Regions from separate parts of the Homo sapiens genome. Here region 2 is linked to region 1. Evidence: fine-mapped expression QTL. A gene starts in region 1. The other region holds a variant in brackets. All regions are shown on one strand. Distances are between the middles of the regions. Region 1 holds the start of CAD (carbamoyl-phosphate synthetase 2, aspartate transcarbamylase, and dihydroorotase). Region 2 overlaps SLC30A3 (solute carrier family 30 member 3).

The links. PIP is the estimated chance that this variant, and not a neighbour inherited with it, causes the effect. A credible set is the group of variants that fine-mapping cannot tell apart.
Region 2: its variant is the best candidate, but not a certain one, in a credible set for the expression of CAD in whole blood (TOPMed, PIP 0.63).

What each region holds. Positions count from the first base shown.
Region 1 is chr2:27,212,714-27,223,815 of GRCh38, forward strand. It overlaps CAD (carbamoyl-phosphate synthetase 2, aspartate transcarbamylase, and dihydroorotase), which reads left to right and starts at 4,656. Exons shown (of 44, transcript NM_004341.5): 1 at 4,656-4,920; 2 at 5,164-5,303; 3 at 8,505-8,634; 4 at 9,481-9,623; 5 at 9,806-9,947; 6 at 10,153-10,324; 7 at 10,850-11,035. The coding sequence starts at 4,839. ATRAID (all-trans retinoic acid induced differentiation factor) reads left to right here. Exons shown (of 7, transcript NM_001170795.4): 2 at 464-585; 3 at 2,608-2,679; 4 at 2,761-2,832; 5 at 2,919-3,040; 6 at 3,810-3,907; 7 at 4,131-4,444. The coding sequence ends at 4,235. It also overlaps a transcript of SLC5A6 not described here. RefSeq lists a silencer at 4,528-4,757.
Region 2 is chr2:27,245,584-27,257,754 of GRCh38, forward strand. It overlaps SLC30A3 (solute carrier family 30 member 3), which reads right to left. Exons shown (of 8, transcript NM_003459.5): 5 at 11,571-11,769; 6 at 11,205-11,310; 7 at 10,803-10,937; 8 at 8,101-9,877. The coding sequence ends at 9,729. Among named protein-coding and RNA genes, the nearest start is that of SLC30A3, 11 kb to the right of the region's middle. RefSeq lists enhancers at 3,875-4,669, 4,670-5,463 and a silencer at 4,299-4,479. The variant G/A (reference allele first, on the strand shown) is at 6,418.

The DNA.
Region 1 (11,102 bases):
TAAGTTCTTTCTACAGACGGGTCCTCTGCCTCTTGTGTAATCTCTCTACGCACGAACGCCATATATCGTGCGGTGGTAGGGCTGTACTTTTGTAATGCTTGATGAGTTCTTTACGTACCTGCGGTCGTTTTACACCGCGCCAAACTAGGGCTGTCAGATTGAGAAGTCTCTGCAGAAAGCATAATAAATAAGTTCGAATAGTGATCTTCAGAGATGAGGACCTTCCCTGTGCGATATCTGGTACTGAAAGTGTCGGGAGCTGATTCGGCGCAGGACTCTGGAGGAAGAGATGGCATCTCCTAGCCTAGCCTGTTACAAGGGTGGGACACGAGCCGTTTATCCATTTATCGGCCCCGTGTTAGAGGAATTCTGGAAACGTGTACTGGCAGTTAATTCTTGATCGCCGTTTGTTCTTTTCTTGGCTTTTCTTTCTGGAGTTCTAATGTTTCTTTCTCTTCTGCAGATATGCACCCAATGTCCAGGGAGCGTGCAAAATTTGTCAAAAGTGGCCTTTTATTGTAAAACGACACGAGAGCTAATGCTGCATGCCCGTTGCTGCCTGAATCAGAAGGGCACCATCTTGGGGTGAGGGGAAGACATCCCTAGATGCTGGATACAGGCCATTCCTTAGCCTGGCTGCTTTTATACCCTTATATTATTTAAAGAATCCACCTATTATGGTTTCAGCTGTAATCATCACGCAGATGTCTACCAAAACTAGATCTCTTTAGTGTCTTTTTTAACCTTTCCACACTCCAGGTACATACGGGTACCTCTAGCTTCCTATTAAGCATTTCCTACTGAGTGCACCCTAACTTCAAACTCAAAATGTTATGTTTTGCTTCCATTCTCTTCTTTCCTTCATCTACCTAAATACTTCTCTGTATTAAGCTTTTAGAAAACCAACATTTTCCATTATCACTCTCTTGCTTTAATACTATATTTAGTATTAAATTTTGTCTCAGGACAAAATTCAAACCATTAAGTACCATACTAGTCCCAACCCACTTTTCCAACATTATTTCCAATTACTTGTCCGCTCAAACCTCCATAATGGTCTGCACCAGCCAGATTTGCCTGCCCTCAAAGGCATTCCACCTTTGTTCAGGCCTCTCTCCATACCTGAAATTGCCTTCCTCTACCAAATTAGGAAATATCCATCCTTCAATTCCAACATCTTTTGTGAATATTTACTACTACTAAGTTCCAGAGTAATACCTTTTTTAAATTATTATTTATTTATTTTTTTGAGACGGAGTTTCACTCTTGTTGCCCAGGCTGGAATGCAATGGCATGATCTCGGCTCACCGCGCCCTCCACCTCCTGGGTTCAAGCGATTCAGTAATACCTTTTTTAAAAACTTCCTGTAATCTTTAGTGTCCACTCAAATATATTTATACACTGTCCTGTGGTTTCTTTTATATTGTAATTTAATGTTTACAGTGCTTTTATTTTTGGGCAGTGCTCTTGTTCCTCTAACTACATTGTAAGCCACTCAAAGGCCAAAATACTGTGTTACATATTTTTAACATTCTCCCAGTGTTTGCAGTTTGTAGGGACTCAGTAAATATTTGTAGAATAAAGGAATGGATAGCAGTAGATATTGAAGAAAAAAATAACGTGGCATGATCCTTAATGTCCAGCAGTTTACAACCAATCTGTGGTAGAAAATACATGTGGAAAAAAACTTTGATTTATGTGACTTTTTTTTTTTAATTTAAAGGCCCTCTGTGGATCTGAAAATCATAATATGAGATTCACTAATGTAGACAAGAAACACAGATTTCTCCCAATAGATGCATAACCGATTAGAACAGTGCTGGCGGATAGAACTTTCTGTGATTATGAAAATGTTCCGAGCCAGGCGCGGTGGCTCATGCCTGTAATCCCAGCACTTTGGGAGGCCCAGATGGGCGGATCACGAGGTCAGGAGTTCAAGACCAGCCTGACCAACATGGTGAAACCCCGTCTCTACTAAAAATACAAAAATTAGCCAGGCGTGGTGGCATGTGCCTATAATCTCAGCTACTCAGGAGGCTGAGGCAGGAGAATTGCTTGAACCCGGGAGATGGAGGTTGCAGTGAGCCGAGATCGTGCCACTGCACTCCAGCTTGGGCAACAGAGTAAGACTGTCTCAAAAAAGGAAAATGTTCCGTATCTGTACTAACCAGTACAGTAGCTACTAACGTGGTTATTCCATTTGCACTTGAAATACGGCTAGTGCAAATGAGACACTGAATTTTTAGGTTAAATTAATTTTCTTCTATAGAGTCAGGGTCTCATTCATATTGCCCAGGCTGGTCTTGAATTCCTAGGTTCAAGTGATCCTCCCCCGCTTGGCCTCCTAAAGTGCTGGGATTACAGGAGTGAGTCACTACACCCAGCCTAAGGTACATTAATTTAAATTTAAGTAGTTACATGTGGCAAGTGGCGATTCTATTGGATAATGCAGAATTAAAATGTCTACCACAGCTCCTAGTGTGTGACTCTGAACACAGCTGTGTTCAATTATTAGCTGAAAAGGGGGTTGTGTAGTCAAATACAAACTGTGCCGTGGCTGAAGAAAAAGAGGAACACACAGTTATATTGATTACTTTATTTCCTCAGGCTGGATCTCCAGAACTGTTCTCTGGAGGACCCTGGTCCAAACTTTCATCAGGCACATACCACTGTCATCATGTAAGTAGTTAGGTACCTCCCACCCAAAAGGCTAATATAATGTAGGTTGATGCGAAAGTGCTAACATTGTGTACTTTGCAGAGACCTGCAAGCAAACCCCCTCAAAGGTGACTTGGCCAACACCTTCCGTGGCTTTACTCAGCTCCAGACTCTGTGAGTAAGGGTATGGGAAGAGAATCAAAGAGGGATGATGCTGTGAGTTTAGCAACTTTGCATGTTATGACCACATTTCTCTATAGGATACTGCCACAACATGTCAACTGTCCTGGAGGAATTAATGCCTGGAATACTATCACCTCTTATATAGACAACCAAATCTGTCAAGGGCAAAAGAACCTTTGCAATAACACTGGGGACCCAGGTATGCTGTCTTACCTCCAAACTTCTGGGAATTGTCTTTTCTCCCTTGTATTTTCCACTTTAGATCAGAAAGACAAAGTTGCTTAAGCGCCTTTCATTCAGAGTTCTGGGGCTATAACCCCTTTGAAAGAAAAGATCTTAAGATATACTCTATTATTTGTCTCACGTGTGTCCGTGTAAAGAGACCACCAAACAGGCTTTGTGTGAGCAACAAGGCTGTTTATTTCACCTGGGTGCAGGTGGGCTGAGTCCAAAAAGAGAGTCAGCAAAGGGTGGTGGGATTATCATTAGTTCTTACAGGTTTTGGGGTAGGCAGTGGAGTTAGGAGTGCTGTTTTGCGGGCAGGGGATGGATCTTACAAAGTACATTCTCAAGGGTGGGGAGAATTACAAAGAACCTTCTTAAGCGTGGGAGAGATTACAAGGAAACTTCTTAAGGGTAAGGGAGATTACAAAGTATATTGATCAGTTAGGGTGGGGCAGAAACAAATCACAATGGTGGAATGTCATCAGTTAAGGCTATTTTCATTTCTTTTGTGGATCTTCAGTTGCTTCAGACCATCTGGATGTATACGTGCAGGTCACAGGGGATATGATAGCTTAGCTTGGGCTCAGAGGCCTGACATTATTGTTACTGTTTTTATCTGTAATTTTCTTTCTTCTTCCTTTATCCTAGCAATGATTGAGAGAATCTAAGTTGAAACAGATAATTGAGAAATATGCCTAATGAAATGGATAAAGTGATGTTCTCTATTTCTCTCTGGCCTCCAGAAATGTGTCCTGAGAATGGATCTTGTGTACCTGATGGTCCAGGTCTTTTGCAGTGTGTTTGTGCTGATGGTTTCCATGGATACAAGTGTATGCGCCAGGTGAGGAATTAGGCCGTCTAACTAGGGATACAAGGAATGCATAGAGCAAGTCTTCTCAGAAAGGAGAGCCACAAGACCAGGAGCTGATACAAATTTCCTATAGGTGGAAAACTATAGAATTGCCCTAGACAAAGTGATAGGTATATTAGGAAAGAACTAGGTGTTAGGATGTGGCCCTCCGTGTAACGTTGTATGGGGGTGTTTTTTGGTCTGTTGTTCACAGGGCTCGTTCTCACTGCTTATGTTCTTCGGGATTCTGGGAGCCACCACTCTATCCGTCTCCATTCTGCTTTGGGCGACCCAGCGCCGAAAAGCCAAGACTTCATGAACTACATAGGTCTTACCATTGACCTAAGATCAATCTGAACTATCTTAGCCCAGTCAGGGAGCTCTGCTTCCTAGAAAGGCATCTTTCGCCAGTGGATTCGCCTCAAGGTTGAGGCCGCCATTGGAAGATGAAAAATTGCACTCCCTTGGTGTAGACAAATACCAGTTCCCATTGGTGTTGTTGCCTATAATAAACACTTTTTTCTTTTTTTTTCCTCTCTTTCTTTTTAAGGAAAGGCGCCCTGCCTTTACGTGTTTCTTGCTTGGGGTGGGAGGGACTGCTTTAGGGCAGCCGGTTTTTTCAGGTTTCCCCCGGTTTTGCAGTGCGGAGACCACGGGGGCCCACTCCCCGTGGCTCCGCGGACCCCGCCCCTTACGTGCCCGGCCCCGCCCCTCACGCCGCCTGTGTCCGCGCCGCCGCAGTCTCTGCTGCTGCCGCCAAGCGCGCCCGAGGCTCCTACGCTGCCGCGCCCGGCTTCTCTCCAGCGCCCCGCGCCGTTAGCCACGTGGACCGACTCCGGCGCGCCGTCCTCACGTGGTTCCAGTGGAGTTTGCAGTCCTTCCCGCTTCTCCGTACTCGCCCCCGCCTCTGAGCTCCCTTCCCATGGCGGCCCTAGTGTTGGAGGACGGGTCGGTCCTGCGGGGCCAGCCCTTTGGGGCCGCCGTGTCGACTGCCGGGGAAGTGGGTAAGCAAGCCCGGTTAGGCTGCAGACCTTATCCCACTCTGTGATGCGCCTCTCCTCCCAACCTTCCCCGTCCAGACCCCGCCATTTTCCCGCCAGCGTACCCCCTTCCCCCATTCGGTGCCCATGGGCCCCAGCGCCATAAACCCCTCGCGACCAAGGCAGCCTCCACTGGGGCGTGCTCATCGCGCGGGGAGTGTTCCGAAGGGTGCCCTACCGGAGCCCAGCCCTGCTTCTTTCTTGCAGTGTTTCAAACCGGCATGGTCGGCTACCCCGAGGCCCTCACTGATCCCTCCTACAAGGCACAGATCTTAGTGCTCACCTATCCTCTGATCGGCAACTATGGCATCCCCCCAGATGAAATGGATGAGTTCGGTCTCTGCAAGGTAGCCACACCCAGTGCTTTCTCTACATTCCTTTTCAAGTCAGTAATTGTTAACTATTAGTGAAGTAGGAGACGTTGACACCCTGCTGGGCATCCTGCAGAAAACATACCCACTGAAGTAGTAAAGTCAAGGACTAAGATCACTAGTAACTGTAGTTAGGGGTTGTTAAGTGCCTTGGGAGGCACAGAGTGTTGGAGGCCTCAGGAAAAAGCTACCGCCTTTGTTAAGGGCATCAAGGCTCCAGGTATAGCTGAAAGCATTCTGTATGTAGTGAAGGCATGGATCAAGGAAAAGTAAAAGAGGTGTAAGGGAACAGCCTTGTCCAACTTGTTAGGCATGCAGAAGTCAGGAGAAAAAAGCCTGCAGATAAGTTAAATCCGGTGGGCATGGAGGGACCTGAAGCCAAAGCAGAGTCAGCTTAGTTTGGTAAAGGATCCATTGAAGGTTTTTTTTTAGCAGCAGAGTCAGATGGGAGCAGTGCTTTTTAGGACTACATAAATTAGTGGAAAGAGACTGGAAACTAGGGTCACATACTTCTCTGTGACAGTGAGTGCCAGTTTACCTACAAAACCAGTGACATTATCTTCTAGACCTACTGACATGGCCTCGTCTGATTCTCTGCTTTTCAGTTGTGTTCTTACCTCTAGGTGAGAAAACTGAGTTTCTTCCTACAGTGAGGTTTCCCCTATTCCTTCACCTCTGAAATTTGGAAACTAAGTTGCCCTCTGACAGTTCAAGCATTAAAAAAAACCCAACATATAGTAATTAAGGTAATAGAGGAAGTCAATCTGGCCTAGAGTAGTATCTCTCAAAATTTGTTTGGCCTCACTGCAGGTGTAAGCCTTTAATTCTTAATTTGCCTTCCCAGCCACCCTGACGCTGGGGAGAGTGAGCTCCGGATAAAGGACGTACATGTTGTTCTTCCTGGAAAAGAATTTCTAGGTTCATCACAAACCTACAAATACACTGCATTCTAGTTGATAGTGAATTCTTGTGAATTTGGTTAACCTTTGTCAGTCATCACCTTTGTCAACTCTAGACACACTGACTAAATTGAGTTTATAAAACTACAAAATTGAGGCCTGATTAGGATCAGGGTGGGAAAGGCCTCTTGGAGCCACTCGCACATATAAATGGATTACTCCACCTGGCCAGGGAGGGTTCTGCCAAACTATCCTTCAGATCCCTGGACAGTCTCAGAATGCAGGTTCCTTAAACTGTTCATCACCCAGCTGAATGCAGTTTAAATATGCTGATCCCTCCCACATAAACTTTCTGTTTCTATGTAGCTATTAAACGCTTATCTATTGAGTAACAAGTTTATGGTTTTTGTTTTTTTTTTGGGGACAAGGTCTCACTTTGTCACCCAGGCTGGAGTGCAGTGGCATAATCATGGCTCACTTGCAGCCTCTGCCACCTGAGCTCAAGTAGTCCTCCCACCTCAACCCCCCAAGTAGCTGGGACTACAGGCACCTGCCGCCATGCCTGGCTACTTTTTTTGTATTTTTTGTAGAGACCGGGTATTGTCACATTGCCCAGGCTTGTATGTTATCTTTTTTTATTTAATTTTTTTTTATTTTTATTTTGCTTTGAGGTAGAGTTTCTTTCTTGTTGCTCAGGTTGGAGTGCAATGGGCAACCTTGGCTCACTGCAACCTCCGCCTCCCGGGTTCAAGCTATTCTCCCACCTCAGCCTCCCGAGTAGCTGGGATTACAGGCATGGGCTACCATTCCCAGCTAATTTTGTATTTTTAGTAGAGACAGGGTTTCTCCATGTTGGTCAGGCTGGTTTTGAACTCCCGATCACAGGTGATCTGCCCACCTCGGCCTCCCAAAGCGCTGGGATTACAGGCGTGAGCCACCGCGCCTGGCCTTTTCTTTTTTAAATAATCCCAAATGAAGTTTGGGAGGCATGCTTAGTATTGTGCCCTGAACCTTTGTTTTTTATTTGGTAATGGGGTATTTTGTACCTCCCTATCTTACTCAGTTTTTAATCACACTCTATAATTAATATTTATATGGGTGTTACCTTGTTTTCTAGCTCCCTAAGTCAGAAATAAACATCATGAAGACAGGAACCTCATCTTTTTTTGCTCATTGCTCTTTTCTCAGCATCTTTTGCAATGCCTGCACCTCAATAAATGTCTGACTGACACCATGTGCCTTGCTCTTGAGTTCTCTGTTTCGTGACAAAGACACAAATACATATTCATCATATGACGTAAATAGCAAGAGAGGAAATAAAGTATTAAAACAGCTCTAAGATGGAGGCACAAGCTGTATTGGGTGAGTGGGAGGGGCTTCACAGAGAAAGGATTTGTGATTTCAGTTTTAGATAAAGGAAGAAAGAGGCGGGGCGCGGTAGCTCATGACTTGTAATCCCAGCACTTTGGAAGGCTGAGGTGGGGGGATCGCTTGAGCCCAGGAAGTTTGAGAGCAGCCTGGCAACATGGTGAGACGCTGTCACTACAAAAAATTCAAAAAATTAGCCAGGTGTGATGATCCACACCTGTGGTCCCAACTACTCAGGAGTCTGAGGTGGGAGAATCACTTGAGCCCAGGAGATTGAGGCTGTAGTGAACCGTGTATTTGTGCCACTGTACTCTGCACTCCAGCCTGGATAACAGCAAGACCCTGTCTCAAAAAAAAAAAAAAGGAATGGCTAGGTGCGATGGCTCACTCCTGTAATCCCAGCACTTTGGGAGGCTGAGGTGGGCAGATCACAAGGTCAGGAGATCTGAGACCATCCTGGCTAACATGGTGAAACCCCGTCTCTACTAAAAATACAAAAAATTAGCCGGGTGTGGTGGCGGGCGCCTGTAGTCCCAGCTACTCGGGAGGCTAAAGCAAGAGAATTGCTTGAATCCGGGAGGCAGAGGTTGCAGTGAGCTTAGATGTCGCCACTGCATTGCAGCCTGGGTGACAGAGTGAGACTCTGTCTCAAAAAAAATAAATAATAAATAAATAAAAAGGAAAATGTCATTTTCAGTGATCATCGGGGCACCCTGGGCCTGTGGGTTGTGTTTCGTATAGGAGAGAGCGTTGTTGGTAAATGGAAATACCTATGCAAAAGCACCAAAAGTTTGGTATATTGAAGGCCATTCAATGTGGCTGAATATAGGGTCTGTGGCCACACAATCGGGAAAATGCTGCAAAGAAATAACTTGGCCTGAGGCTTCTCACAATCTCTTTCCATCTACAGTGGTTTGAATCCTCGGGCATCCACGTAGCAGCACTGGTAGTGGGAGAGTGCTGTCCTACTCCCAGCCACTGGAGTGCCACCCGCACCCTGCATGAGTGGCTGCAGCAGCATGGCATCCCTGGCTTGCAAGGTATGGTGGCAAGCAGGGGCATATTTGGGCAGAGCACAGCATGCCTGGATGGAAAGAATCAAGGTTTCTGTAATCTGCTGGGACCTGACTCTAAGATTGTGATAGTTGGAAGGTTTAGATTGGAGTTGGGCTGGGAGAAAGAATTGAACTATCACTCAGAAAGAAAATTTCCAACACAGGAAGGAACTCCCACCTTCCATAATCATCAGCTTAGGGCTAATCTTATTTCATCACCACCACTGGATTATTTTGATGCAAATCTCAGACATCATATCATTTCATCTACAAATAGTTCAATATCTATGCAAAAGGAATCTTTAAAAAACATGATCATAATAACGTCATACACTAAAAAAATTAATAATTCCCTAATACAAGTGTCCAGGCAATGTTTAAAATTTCCCAATTTTTTTTTTTTTTTTTTTTTTTTTTTCTGTTCATTTGAATCTTGCTCTAAACAGGGTTCACACATTGCATTTGGTTGATAAGTCTCTTAATCTGTGGACCTTGTAACCTATTTGAAAACAGGTCATTTTTCCTGTATCTAGTATCCCATAGTCTGCACTTACTTGGTTACACTCCTGTAGTGTTACTTAGCGTATTCTTTTTTTCCCTTTATATTATTTTCTATAAATGGATAGATTTAGAGTTGTTCAATTCAGATGTGATATTTTTGGCAGGAATACTTCATGGTAGTATACTTCTGTCACAATGGCCCAGGATTTTGATGCACATAGAACAGCTGTGTGTGACTGGGGCTCTGGAATGGAAGTGCTTCTGGAAGTCTAACCTCACAGATGACTGAGTTGTAGGAATGTGATCCCTAAGACTGTGCTATTTTGACAGGAGTAGACACTCGGGAGCTGACCAAGAAGTTGCGGGAACAGGGGTCTCTGCTGGGGAAGCTGGTCCAGAATGGAACAGAACCTTCATCCCTGCCATTCTTGGACCCCAATGCCCGCCCCCTGGTACCAGAGGTCTCCATTAAGGTACAGAGGTAGAGTGGGAGAGTGTTGCAAGCTCTAGCACAGTAGTTATATTCTGCCCACAATTGGGGGGTGAACACAGGAGAGAATCAAAGGAGGCTTTGAAGGTAGGAGTTGGTGCAGGCATATCTTATACCCACTGAGCACAGCTGCCAACTGTTGCCCTTTATTCGTCTATTTCTCAGACTCCACGGGTATTCAATACAGGGGGTGCCCCTCGGATCCTTGCTTTGGACTGTGGCCTCAAGTATAATCAGATCCGATGCCTCTGCCAGCGTGGGGCTGAGGTCACTGTGGTACCCTGGGACCATGCACTAGACAGCCAAGGTGAGTAGCTGGGGCCTGTTCAGGGCCTCAGACAAGCAGCTTGGGTGGAAGATCTATCCCTTGGTCCAATTGCTAAAAGTCAGTAGGAGTTGCAGTGAAGAAGATAGACATTGGGACTTAACACTCTCATGGGCTGGGGGGGCTGCAGGTGTGTCTCCTGTAATTGAAATACTGATTTTGATGTCATCTTTTCTGCCCACTCCAGAGTATGAGGGTCTCTTCTTAAGTAATGGGCCTGGTGACCCTGCCTCCTATCCCAGTGTCGTATCCACACTGAGCCGTGTTTTATCTGAGCCTAATCCCCGACCTGTCTTTGGGATCTGCCTGGGACACCAGCTATTGGCCTTAGCCATTGGGGCCAAGACTTACAAGATGAGGTGGGACTTGTGGGGAGCAGAAGGGGCCCATACTTGTGGCATGAGGGGTGGGGTGTCTCAGGAATGAGAAGAGAGTTGGTGTTTATTCGTGTTGAAATAGGAGCGGGGGGGTTGCAGGTGAGGTGGCTCCCACCTGTAATCCCAGCACTTTGGGAGGCCAAGGTGGGCGGATCACTGGAGGTCAGGAGTTCGAGACCAGCCTGGCCAACATGGTGAAACTCTGTCTCTACTAAAAATACAAAAGTTGGCCAGCCATGGTGGCGTGCGCCTGTAATCCCAGCTACTCCAGAGGCTGAGGCAGGAGAATCGCTTGAACCTGGGAGGTGGAGGTTGCAGTGAGCGGAGATCGTGCCATTGCCCTCCAGCCCGGGAAACAGAGGGAGACTCCGTCTCAAAAAAAAAAAAAAAACAAAAAGGAAACAGGAGTGAGGCTACTGAGAACAGGAGATCGGTGAGAGCTGGGGTAGGTTCAGTAGTGAAGAGAGGGTGAGCAGGGCCTGTGACTCGGCATGCTTCTACCTCCAGATATGGGAACCGAGGCCATAACCAGCCCTGCTTGTTGGTGGGCTCTGGGCGCTGCTTTCTGACATCCCAGAACCATGGGTTTGCTGTGGAGACAGACTCACTGCCAGCAGACTGGGCTCCTCTCTTCACCAACGCCAATGATGGTTCCAATGAAGGCATTGTGCACAACAGCTTGCCTTTCTTCAGGTGAGCCTGGTTGACTGGGTCTGTGAAAATTTGAAGCCCTGTGGGCCTTGATGATGGAAAAGTAAAG
Region 2 (12,171 bases), 33 kb after region 1:
AACCCTTTCCAGTCTTTCCAAACCCAGATTCCTGCCTGACAAGGTCTCCCTCAGGTACCTGGAGGACTTTATTGGTTGGAAAATAGAGTACCATTTCCAGAACTCTTCTTTTTCTTTCTAGAGACTCCATTTCCTTGCTTAAACTCTTAGAACAAGTCAGAGATTATTTTCCCAATTGTACTCATGAGTACTTGGGACTCGCACACAGATTCCCACAGAACTTGGATAGCCTCACCCTCAAGTAGAAGCAGTGTTTTCTGCCAAGTAGCGGACGCATTTTACTTAGTTGCTAAGTGGTGGGAGATGTTCCTGTCCTGAGCCTTTCTTTGGCTCTCCTAATCATAGCTCAGCTCTGAGTTGAATAAAGTTTTTTCCCGTATGACCAGAAAGTAAATCTCATTATATTGGGAAACAAAATGAAAAAACTTACCAGCAAAAACCAAAATTAGCCCTTTATTTTTTAAAATTTTTATCGTTTTGAGATGGCATCTCGCTCTGTTGCCCAGGCTGGAGTGCAGTGGTGCAATCTTGGCTCACTGCAACCTCCGCCTCCCAGGTTCAAGTGATTCTCCTGCCTCAGTCTCCCGAGTAACTGGGACTACAGACATGTGCTACCACACCCAGCTAACTTTTTGTATTTTTAGTAGAGATGGGGTTTTGCCATGTTGGCTAGGCTGGTGTTGAACTCCTGACTTCAAGTGATCTGCCCGCCTCAGCCTCCCAAAGTGCTAGGATTACAGGCATGAGCCACCGCACCCAGCCAAAATTAGCCCTTTAATACAATACCTTTGGGCCTGTTCCACATCCACTGAGAAACAACTTCATATCTGCCATGTAATTGTCATGAAGCATAAAAAGTTAGTTTGCTTCCTGAGGTACTTAAGAGGTTTGATCTATTTCTTCTATAAGAAACATTTATATGCCAAGCACTGTTCTAAGCGCTTTACAGATACATCCCTTTGACACTTGGATGAATCCTTTGACTATCCCCCACCTTGAAAGAAGTGTGGCTAACGTTGGGTTGCTATTACAGCCATTTTCTCCCACCTCTTCACTGTCCACCCTAGTGAAGGAGACATCCCCCTCAACATAGGTAGTCCACCGGGAGCTTTGTCAGCTGCACTCTAGTCCTGGCCCTTACAACTAACTACCTGCAACCATGGCAAGTCAGTATGCCTGTGGGCTTTTATTTTTTATACTAAAATTTTGTTTTTGAGACAGGGTCTCATTCTGTCACCCAGGCTGGAGTGCAGTGGCACGATCTCAGCTCACTGCAGCCTTGACCTCATGGGCTCAAGTGATCCTCCCACTTAAGCCTCCCAAGGAGGTGGGACCACCATGGCCATACCACCATGCCCGGCTAATTTTTTGTGTTTTTTTTGTAGAGATGGGGTTTTGCCATGTCGTCCAGGCTGGTCTCAAACTCCTGGAGTCAAGTTATCCTCCCCACTCAGCCTCCAGAATAGCTGGGACCACAGGCACATGCCACCACACCTGGCTAATTTTTGTTCTTGTTTTGTTTTATAGAGATGGGGATTCGCCATGTTGCCCAGGCTGGCCTATTACTTTTTTTTTTTTTTTTTTTTTTTTTGAGACGGAGTCTTGCTCTGTTGCCCAGGCTGGAGTGCAGTGGCGCGATCTTGGCTCACCGCAAGCTCCGCCTCCCGGGTTCACGCCATTCTCCTGCCTCAGCCTCTCCGAGTAGCTGGGACTACAGGCACCTGCCACCACGCCCGGCTAATTTTTTGTATTTTTAGTAGAGATGGGGTTTCACCGTGGTCTCGATCTCCTGACCTCGTGATCCGCCCGCCTCAGCCTCCCAAAGTGCTGGGATTACAAGCATGAGCCACCGCGCCCGGCCAGGCTGGTCTATTCCTGGGCTCAAGTGATCCTCCTGCATCAGCCTCCTAAAGTGCTGGGATTACAGCCATGAGCCACCATGCCCAACCCACCTATAGGCTTTAAAAGGGTAGTTGGCAATTCCCAGTGTAAAATTGCAAAGTGTCTGTAGTTCTGCAGTAATATCCCCTGGGACAATGAGGGGGCATTGGCTGGTGGAGGTGAGGAGCAGAGAATGAGGGCCAGGATGGGATGAGTGCTTAATGGAAGACTCGTCTGGCAACAGTGCCTAGAAGAGAGAAAGGAGCCATTTCACCATCAGGACGCCAATTAGGAAGTTGTTGCAGTAAATACAGATCATGGGTGAAGAGGTTCTAGATTCAGAGATAGGAATAGATGTTATAACACTGAGGAGAGAGGAGAGTGAAGAATGACTGCACAGTGTGGGACCTCAAGACTGGAAGAAAGAAGACTGATGAAGGTAGACCAGATAGCCAGTTTGGGGTAGGGGAGGGCTGATTCCATTTGGGCATGATACCTAGCTGCCGTGGGCCATCTATATGGAGATGTCATGGAGGTAATGGAGCTGGGGAGTTGGAGCAAGCACAATAGAGACAGGTGGCATTTATATGTGACAACACAAGTGCCATGAGAGCAGGGACTTTACTCACTGATGTATCCCAAACACCAGAACAGGGTTGAGCACATAGTAGGTGCTCAGTAAATGTGTTGACCGAAGCATCAACATAAAGGTAATTGAAGCTTTTAAAATATGCATATTTGTTCACCAAGAGAATAGCGGCAAGCCTCAATTTCAGCAAGGGCCGCAGGAGAACTCAGGAGAAAGCCCTCAAGAGGCCCAGAATTCCAAGTGTGTGAGGGACGGGAGACGTATTGGCAGATTCAAATCCTGTAGCAGGCCAAAGAGAAGGAAATTTGAGGCAAGGACCTTGTCACAATAGTTGTTAGGCTGATGCTTTGTGGTGGTAACCAGGTTTCACGAGGTTACTGAGGGACTGGTTTAGAAGCTGAGGTCATTTACCAAGTGGCAAGGAAAAAAATGGGTGTTGAGATTGGGAGCTCAAAGGCTTTAGAGAAGGTCAGGGAAGCTGTGATGAATCCGCAGGAGATTAATAGAGTCACAAGCAGGACTCAAGGGGAAGCTAAACACTGAATTTGTGGTGGGGCTGGGGGAAGCCATGTCCAGGGCAGGGGCGTAGAAGGGCTTGCACTCCCTGGAGGACCCAAGAAATAGAAATGAGCTGGCCGGGCGCGGTGGCTCACGCCTGTAATCCCAGCACTTTGGGAGGCCGAGACGGGCGGATCACGAGGTCAGGAGATCGAGACCATCCTGGCTAACACAGTGAAACCCCATCTCTACTAAAAATGCAAAAAAAATTAGCCGGGTGTGGTGGCAGGCACCTGTAGTCCCAGCTACTCGGGAGGCTGAGGCAGGAGAATGGTGTGAATCCGGGAGGCGGAGCTTGCAGTGAGCCAAGATCACGCCACTGCACGCCAGCCTGGGCGACAGAGCGAGACTCCATCTCAAAAAAAAAAAAAAAAGAAAAGAAATAGAAGTGACTGCCTGCTTGAGAGCACCTGAATTGCTACCATCAAATGCTACCATCAGATACAGATTTATACCTCGGGAATCAGCATGTATGAAACCTGCTTGTTGGCCCATTGGTAGGAGCTGGGGATTAGAAGATATTTTATGGACTTTGCATTGGCCTGACATTTATCTGTTCACCATCCTTCCACCCATTCCTTCCATCACCAGCAGTCATACTGAGCATGTACTTGGTGTCTGGCTGTGAGCTAAGTGCTGGGGGAGCATGCCTTCCTTCAAGGAGTGTGCCGTCAGTAGGCCACTCACCGTTTTACTGTGTCTCCCAGCAGTCCTGTGTGACCACGTCCTGGTCCAGCAGGATGGGGGAAAGCAGGGAGGCCATGCTTGGGCAGACTCCGTGGTCAGGAAAAAGCAAGTTTGTTGTTGTAGGGTCTGAACCCTGCTTATTTTGGTAAGCTTTCTTATCTTTTTAATATTCTGGGTTCAGTTCCCTTCTATTTCTCCCCAGGCTTTTGGCTACAGTCCTTTAAAAATTTATAGCCATCGTTGTTGAGCCAAAGCAAACAAAAGAATGGAATCGGAGGTTAAGGCTGTTTGGGTCGTGTCCTCTGAGTGAGCTTCTCCAGGTCTGGGCTTCTTCCTGTCCCCAGGATGCTGTAGCCAGAGAGCAGATGAGGGGGTCTGGGGTACCACACGGGGAATGGCAAGAGCAGAGAAAGGCTAGGACCAGGGCTGAAGGAGGGAGGCACAGGCTCTGGCAACCCGGGCCTTCCTGCCTACCCACTCTCCCCACGTTCTTTCTCTTGCCAGTTAAGGAAACGGGGCCTGCTTTGTGTATGGGATTGCTGGTGATCACAGCTGCATCTGGGGGTGTGGTGGTATACACGTGGAGTCCCAGCTGCTCAGGAAGCCGAGGCAGGAGGATTGCTTGAGCCCAGGAGTTTGAGGCTAGCCTGGGCAGCATAGCAAGACCCCATCTCAAAAAAGGAAAAAGCCCCCACACAGCTGCATCTGGGGCCTCAGGCTTTGCCCTGTTGGGGCCTGGGAACTGCCCCTCCAAGCACCCCTTGGAAGGTACTGACCAGGTACTGACGAGGTGTCCCTGGGACTTAAGCCAGGGACAGGGAGGCCCTGGGAACTGCCAGAGTTGGGGGAAGGGAGGTTGGAGAGTTAAGAAAGAGTACTCCAACTATAAAAGGAACACCCTGACTACAGTTCTCCACAGTGAGGGTCTCTGCCTGGCGGAGGGGAAAAGGGTCTTCCCGTCCTGACCCCAGTCCTGAGACTCCCTGCAAAGACTTCCGGCTGCCTCTGCCGCTGCGGTGGCGTATGCCCCAGTTGGGGGCGCTGCTCCCCAGCCAGCCGGGCTCTAGGAAGCGGGAGGGCCAAATGCCTCCTTTAAGCCGGCTGCACCGGGGCCCTGACCGGGCGGGAGGGCTGCTGGAGGGTGGTGCTTATCACCCGGGCTTCCTCTTGACCCTGCCGGCTGGGCCCTGGGCCTTGGCCTTCGCCTCTTAAACGTGGTGCAGGACTCACCCTGGGCCACCCCCAGGTGGGCAGCCTTGGGAGAAGGGCAGGACCTGCCCATGTGCCCATGCTCCTCCGCCCAGTCACTGCAGCACGAAGCCTCTCAGGTCCGCACCCTGCATTCTGGCCCTTTGATCTCCAGTTTCTCCTTTGAATAGCCCTGCAGCTCTCAGCAGGGAAACCCGGCCTGCCTCTCTCTCCCTCCACTCTCCATTTCACCCCTTTCCTGGCTGTCCCTCTTCTCTGGTTCCTCTCTGACCCGAAAGCCCACCCCTCCCCTAGTTAATCAGCTGTGTAAAGAGCTGGGGCTGGGCTGAGGGATGGGCCCTCCCCCACCTGCGTTGCTCTCCCCTGCCTTCCCCTCACCCCTCCCAGGCCCAGTCCCTTCCCCTCGACTCTCCCTCCTCCATCTATCATCAAGGAAGGGCACCCAGGGGAAAGGGACTTCTGGATAAGCGAGTGGAGAAGGAGGATAGGAGGATAATGGGGGAGTGCAGGCAGCTCTGCAGATAAGGATTTCCTGGGCTCCCGGGGATGGTGGCCCAGTGTGAAGGTGGGAGAATGCTCCAGAGACCTGTCTCCTCATCCTCCCGATGCCCGAAGGTGAGTGGAAAGGCAGGATGGCATAGAGAGAGGGCTGGGGACGTCCAGGGGCCAGAACTCAGAACCGAGTGGAACCAGCTGCACGACCATGGGCAGGTGAGCCTGCTTCTCCATCTGTCAGGTGCACAGGATACTGTCCGCACCACAGTGCCTTGCACAAAATAAGCTCAATGATTGCTGCTTCCTGTCCCTGCTGTCAGGGTGCCGGGCCACTCTCTTCTCCTGAAATCTCTCCCCTGCATCCTGGGTTCAACCCAAAAGCTAACTCTTATATACACCTTCTATATACCAGGCACATTCACACCCATGATATCACGTAATCACTATTTTATAATTGAGAAAGCTGAGACGCAGAGAGGTTAACTGTGACTAGAATAATAGTAAAGGCAGAGCAGAACCAGAGGGTCTGACCCCAGAGCCCCAGGACGGGAGTGCCAGCGGCAGCAGGCTGCTGGAAGGGCTGAGGAAAGATTTGCTGAGAAACTCAACTAGGCAAGAGCTTCAAAGGGGCCTGGAGTGGGAATGAGAGCCTGGGCATGTGCTGGCTGACCCTGGGGAAGTCTTTTTCCCTCCCTGAGTCTCCTCCTTCTATGGGCAGAAGATGGACTGGATGCTTGGTGAAGGCATTCACCTGCCCTGAGCATTCCCCTGCAAAGGGACCCAGCATCGCACAGATAGGACAGGCTGTGGCTTAAAGCATTTCATAGGGTGAAAATCGAGTCCTCCTGTTCCCCACCCTCCTTCCCTCTCCTCGATTTCCTCACTCTTCCCCACCCCCATCCTGTCACCTGGGGCCTATAATCAATGAGACGTAAAATGAGAAAGTATCAGGAACCAGCAAAGCATGGCGAGCAGCTGGGGCGGCCTTGCCGCCGGGC[G/A]TGATGGACTGCCAGCCCTTCGCTTCGCCAGCCTCCCACACCCTGACGTGGGCAGTGGCGTCTCACCCAGCCTGGGCTAAGGCTCCCAGCTGGACATCAGGGAGGGGGCTACCTCTGATGAGTCCAAAAGCCTCACCTTTAAAAAGGAATGAAATCTATGGTCTTGACATGGAAAGATGAGTCTAGGCTGCATGGTTGAGTCATAAACACAGGTAACACGATCTCACCTATAAGATGACCCCATTTTTGTTATTATGTAGAAATACTGACCCCATACTAGGATTAGCAGTTTTCTCGGAAAGTAAGATTACAGGGGAAACATTCACTTTCTACTTTATATACTTTTCCTTTGTTGTACCCTTAAAACAAGTATATATTGCTTTTATAGTAAAAATAATCTGATAATAAAGATATTTCTATTATGAGGAAGGCTCACAGAAATATGCATGGGCTATTGAAAATGCTCAACGTCCTTGCTTTGGGCTGGGATTTTATCAACATGGTGGGAAGGCCTGAAGCACTAGATCTAAAATCAAAGCACAGAGTCTAATTTTTTTTTTTTTTTTTAAGACAGAGTCTCCCTCTGTCGCCCAGGCTGGAGTGCAGTGGCGCAATCTCAGCTCACTGCAACCTCTGCCTTCCGGGTTCAAGCGATTCTCCCTGCCTCAACCTCCCGAGTAGCCAGGATTACAGGTGCCCACCACCATGCCCAGCTAATTTTTTTTTTTTTGAGACAGAGTTTCACTCTTGTTGCCCAGGCTGGAGTGCACTGATGCAATCTCGGCTCACCGCAACCTCTGCCTCCTGGGTTCAAGCAATTCTTCCGCCTCAGCCTCCTGAGTAGCTGGGATTACAGGCATGCGCCACCACACTGGCTAATTCTTGTATTTTTAGTAGAGACGGGGTTTCTCCATGTTGGTCAGGCTGGTCTCGAACTCCTGACCTCAGGTGATCCACCCACCTCGGCCTCCTGAAGTGCTGGGATTACAGGCATGAACCACTGTGCCCGGCCAAATTTTTGTATTTTTTAGTAGAGACAGGGTTTGACCATGTTTGAGACACAGTCTCACTGTGTTGCCCAGACTGGAGTGCAGTGGCACAATCATGGCTCACTGCAGCCTCGACAACCTGGGCTCAAGTGATTCTCCCCACTTAGCCTCTCAAGTAACTGGGACTACAGGTACACACTACCATGCCCAGCTAATTTTTGTATTTCTTGTACAGACAGGGTTTCACCATGTTGCCCAGGCTGATCTTGAACTCCTGGGGTCAAGTGATCTGCCTGCCTCAGCCTCCCAAAGTGCTGGAATTACAGGCGTGAGCCATCTTGCCTAGCTGATTTTTCTTTTTTTTTCTTTTTTTTTTTTTTTGATGGAGTCTTGCTCTGTCGCTCAGGCTGGAGTGCAGTTGCATGATCATAGTTCATTGCAGCCTCAACCTCCTGGGCTCAAGTGATCCTCCCACCTCAGCCTCCTGAGTAGCTGGAACCACAGACATACACCACCACACGTAGCTAATTTATTTTTATTTTTAATTTTTTTTGTAGAGACAGGGTGTCACTATGTTGACCAGGCTGGTCTTGAACTCCTGGCCTCAAGCGATCCTCCTGCCTCAGCCTCTCAAAGTGCTGGGATGACAGACATGAGCCACCAAACCCAGTGAGTTTGATTTTTTTTTTTTTTTGAGACAAGGTCTTGCTCTGTTGCCCAGGCTGAAGTGCAGTGGCATGATCATGGCTGACTGCTGCCTTGACCTCCTGGGCTCAGGCAATCCTCCTGCCTCAGCCTCCTGAATAGCTGGGACTACAGGTATGCACCACCACACCCAGCTAATTTTTAAATTATTTGTAGAGACAGGGGTTTCCCTAGGTTGCCCAGGCTGGTCTTGAACTCCTGGGCTCAAACAATCCTCCTGCCTCAGCCTCCAAAGGGCTGAGATTACAGGCACAGGCCACTATGTCCAGCTTGAGTTTGATTTTTTTTAAAGAGAAAATCAACAATCCCTTAATGAGCCTGATTTTAAGACTTAATGTGTCAAAATATGCAGTTCTTAAGACAAAGGGGGAATAGGTGTAAAAGAGGTCCTTGGTGTTCACAGCCTAAACCTGGACTCAGGGTTGGCTGCTATCAGGGTTGAGGGGTCCCTACCGCTGGACACCTTAGATGGCCTGAGAACCAAGCCCACATCAGTGCTATGGTCTAGCCATTCTCCCTCAAAGGGACCCAGCCTCCCTCCAGCCAGCCTGAGGCCCACTGGCATGCAGGGACCTCTGAGAACGACTGACTCCCAGGGATTCCTTGGCTCCTTACCTTCCAGCATTCTCCTGCAACCAAGCCCAGGGCACATGGGACTGTCCCTGAGCCAAGGACCCAGGCATGCTGTGAGCCAGGGGAAGGGGAGTAAAGAGACTGGTGGCTTTTACCCTCCATCTGAGGGTGGAGGGGCTGGGAAGGGACAGGAGGTCTGTGGGAGGTCACTCCAGAGGCTGGGAAGGGACAGGAGGGATTCTGTTGTTCTCAAGTGACCTATTTGACTTCCCCCTCCTGAGGAGTCAGCACACAGGCTGAAAGATGCAGTGAGACACAAGTTTATTGGTGGAGCTGCAGCGGAGTCCTCCCTCTTTCAGGGATAGCCAAGGGCACAGCACCAACAGAGGGATGGAGAGATAGACCCCCAAACAGACACATGGATGGAGCAGACTCATAGAAACCATAGCACAGCCACATAGGCACAGAGACACACAGGCCACAGCACCAAGAACACACACACACACACACACACACACACACACACACACACAGACAAAACCACAGGGCTAAGACACACGGACAAAGTGCGGGCTTTGGGGCCCCTGCATAGACAGAGCGAGGGCCATGTGGGGAGGGGGCCCCTACTGACCTCCCCCAGGCATAGGCACACCAACAGCACATAGACAGGCAGATGCCCCCAGCCAGCCAGCCTGCCACACAGACAAATGGACTGCAGGGAAAGGATGTTCGTGGCTCCACATGAACCATGGGGAGATGGCACCACAGGCCTTCAACACACCCTGCCACACTGAGGCCTGGGAGTCCCCGCCCCTGAACTAGTCACATCTATTCCCCTGACTCCCACCCCACTCCCCGCCACACTTTGGTCTTGCCCACTGGGGCTGGGGCTGGGGCTGAGGCTGGGGAAACTGGCAGGTGGTAGGAGGGAGAGAGGAAGGGGTATGGACCTGGCTCGGTCCCGTCTCTGTGATCAGGGCAGCAGATGCTGAGAGTCTGGGGCTGAGCCTCGGCCTGGCAGTGGGGTGAGGGCAGGGCCATGGCTCAGGCTTGGGGGGGTTCCTGGCAGCGCAGGCACTGGGCCATCTCCGGCTGATACTGCTCGACCTGCAGGGTGCAGCTGGAGAATCCAAACCGGGAGTAGAGCCGGGATGAGGCTTCAGCCAGGACGGCTTCAGGGTCAGCGGTGGAGTCTGTGGGAGAGTGATAAGAGGCGGCATCCATCCCGGGGGAGAAAGAACAGGCAGGGACTGAGATAAGGACAGGGAAAGGGGCTGCACAGCATTAAAGCCAGGCGTGAATGGAAGCCTGCTTTTCTTTCTGTATTGTATGAACAGCATAAAAGTGTCAAATCAAATGTTGGAGAGACTCACCCCAATCAACCATGCTAACACACTAAACTCTTTCCAGTCTCCTATTCTCTCCTGTCATTAAGTGTCAACATACAGCTCAACATTTCAGCAGCCATACCACCCGATTTCCCAGGACAATCCAGTTGTTAAATATCTGTCTCATTGTCCCTCTAGAGTTTCCATCAAATATCCCACAAATTATAATATTTTTGGCATACAAATTGCATGACTCTGATTGCTTCTTGCATCTGGAAGAAACTCAAAAATCCTTTGTCAGCTCATGACTCACCATATATATTTTTAATAGTTGAATCATAATGTAGATGCAATTTTATATTCAGCTTTTTTCTCAGCATTATACCATAAACATTTTTCATAGTTGCTGTACAGTCTTCACAAGCATCATTTTTAACAGTTATGTGATACCTCAGGGTGGAGGTGCTGTAATTTACCTAACTGTGCCCCATCACTAGACCTGTAGGTACTAATGATCTTTTAAAGGGTTGTTGGTTCCCTGTGCTACTTCAAAGAGGGTGAAACTGCCCCCAGAACACTGCATCCAGTGGATGGAGACTCCTTGTCTCCAACATGCACGAGCGCACGTGCATGTGTGTGTGTGTGTATGTGTCTATGTGAGAGAGAGAGACACAGAGAAACAGAGACAGATCAAAAAAGACTGAAACAATTCCAGTAACTCAAGCTATGGTCCCATGTTTGGGGTGGGGTATGTTCCAGGTAGTAACTAGCTGGGGCCAGTGTGACTCACCGATGGCCAGGTGTGCAGAGGCAACATGGTAAGTGAGCGTAAGGGCCCACAGGTGCAGCTCATGGGTTGCCCGGACTCCTGGCACCGACAACAGCGTATCCCGCACAGGTTCGAACCCCACATTGCGGGGGGTACCTGCAACCAGCACCAGTCATGCCTTACTGCTAGGGCTACTCCTGCCCAGAAGCAGCACCCCCACCACTGGATTCCACCTCCCCTATCCTGTATGCACTCTCCTTTTGACCCCTACAATTCACCCTATGCCCAAATCCTTGTTCCAGCAGCAGACCCCATGAGCCAAGCCTTCTTCCCGTACTATCTTCAAAGAAAAAAGTGATGGCCCACTGCGAGAGTAAAGTCAGAGAGGGCCACAGGGATGGGGAGCTGTGGTGCCCGACTCACCTTCCATGAGGATTCGAAGAACGTCTCGGAGGGTGGGAGCGGTGGATCCAAGGGCACAGATGGAGAAGAGGAAGGTGCTGATGGGGTCGGCTGCCTTGTATTGAGGCTGCAGAGAAAGAGACCCCTAAGCCCAACAACCAGGGACCTTTCAGAGGAAGATCTAGGGGTATCTTGAACAAACATGACCTGAGAGGCCCCTCAAAACCCTGAAGAGGGGACAGGGAACATGACTCATGTCTGGGAGAGTCCTGGGAGGTGGGAGGGAGGAGCTGGAGGGAGGAGGAAGGAAGCTTTGGGACCTGGGAAGGAGTGGGCTGGGATGTGGTTGTGGGGAGGAAGGCTGGGGCAGGTCTCCAATGATGGTACCTTGAAGTAGATGAGGATGGAGGCAGCCAGTACCCCAAAGCTCTGCAGGAGGTCCCCCAGCACGTGCACAAATGCCGCCCGGACGCTGGTGTTCCCCAGGGGCAGGGGCTCTTCAGGCCCCTCCTCCAGCGGTGCATACTCTGCTCCCCTAGACCCGTGGCTGTGGGGGGGCCCAGCCTGGTGCAGCACAAAGGCCATTCTGAGGGGTAAGCAGAGCACCTCAGCCTAGGGCCCTGCTCCTGGCCTCCTATACCCCCATCTCCATGTCTCACCTCCCCAGTAGCCCTTTCCCAGCCCCTGGAAGAAAACAGCATTTTGCAAGAGAGATAAACAATGCAGCCTGGGGGAAAGAATACCAGACTTGGTGCCACACATGTGGATTCGGAAGCTGGCCCTGTTACTTAAATAGATATGTGACTTGGGCAAGTCACCTGTTGGGATTGACTGCATTAATGGTAAACTAGGGGTAATGCTACCTACCTCATGGGGTGGCTGTGAGGTTTAAATGCAATCATGTTGATGAAAGCCCTCATCAGAGTGGCTGGCCCATGGCAGGCCCTTGACAGAGATCTGCTGACTGAATTTTAGGTCTCTATCCCAG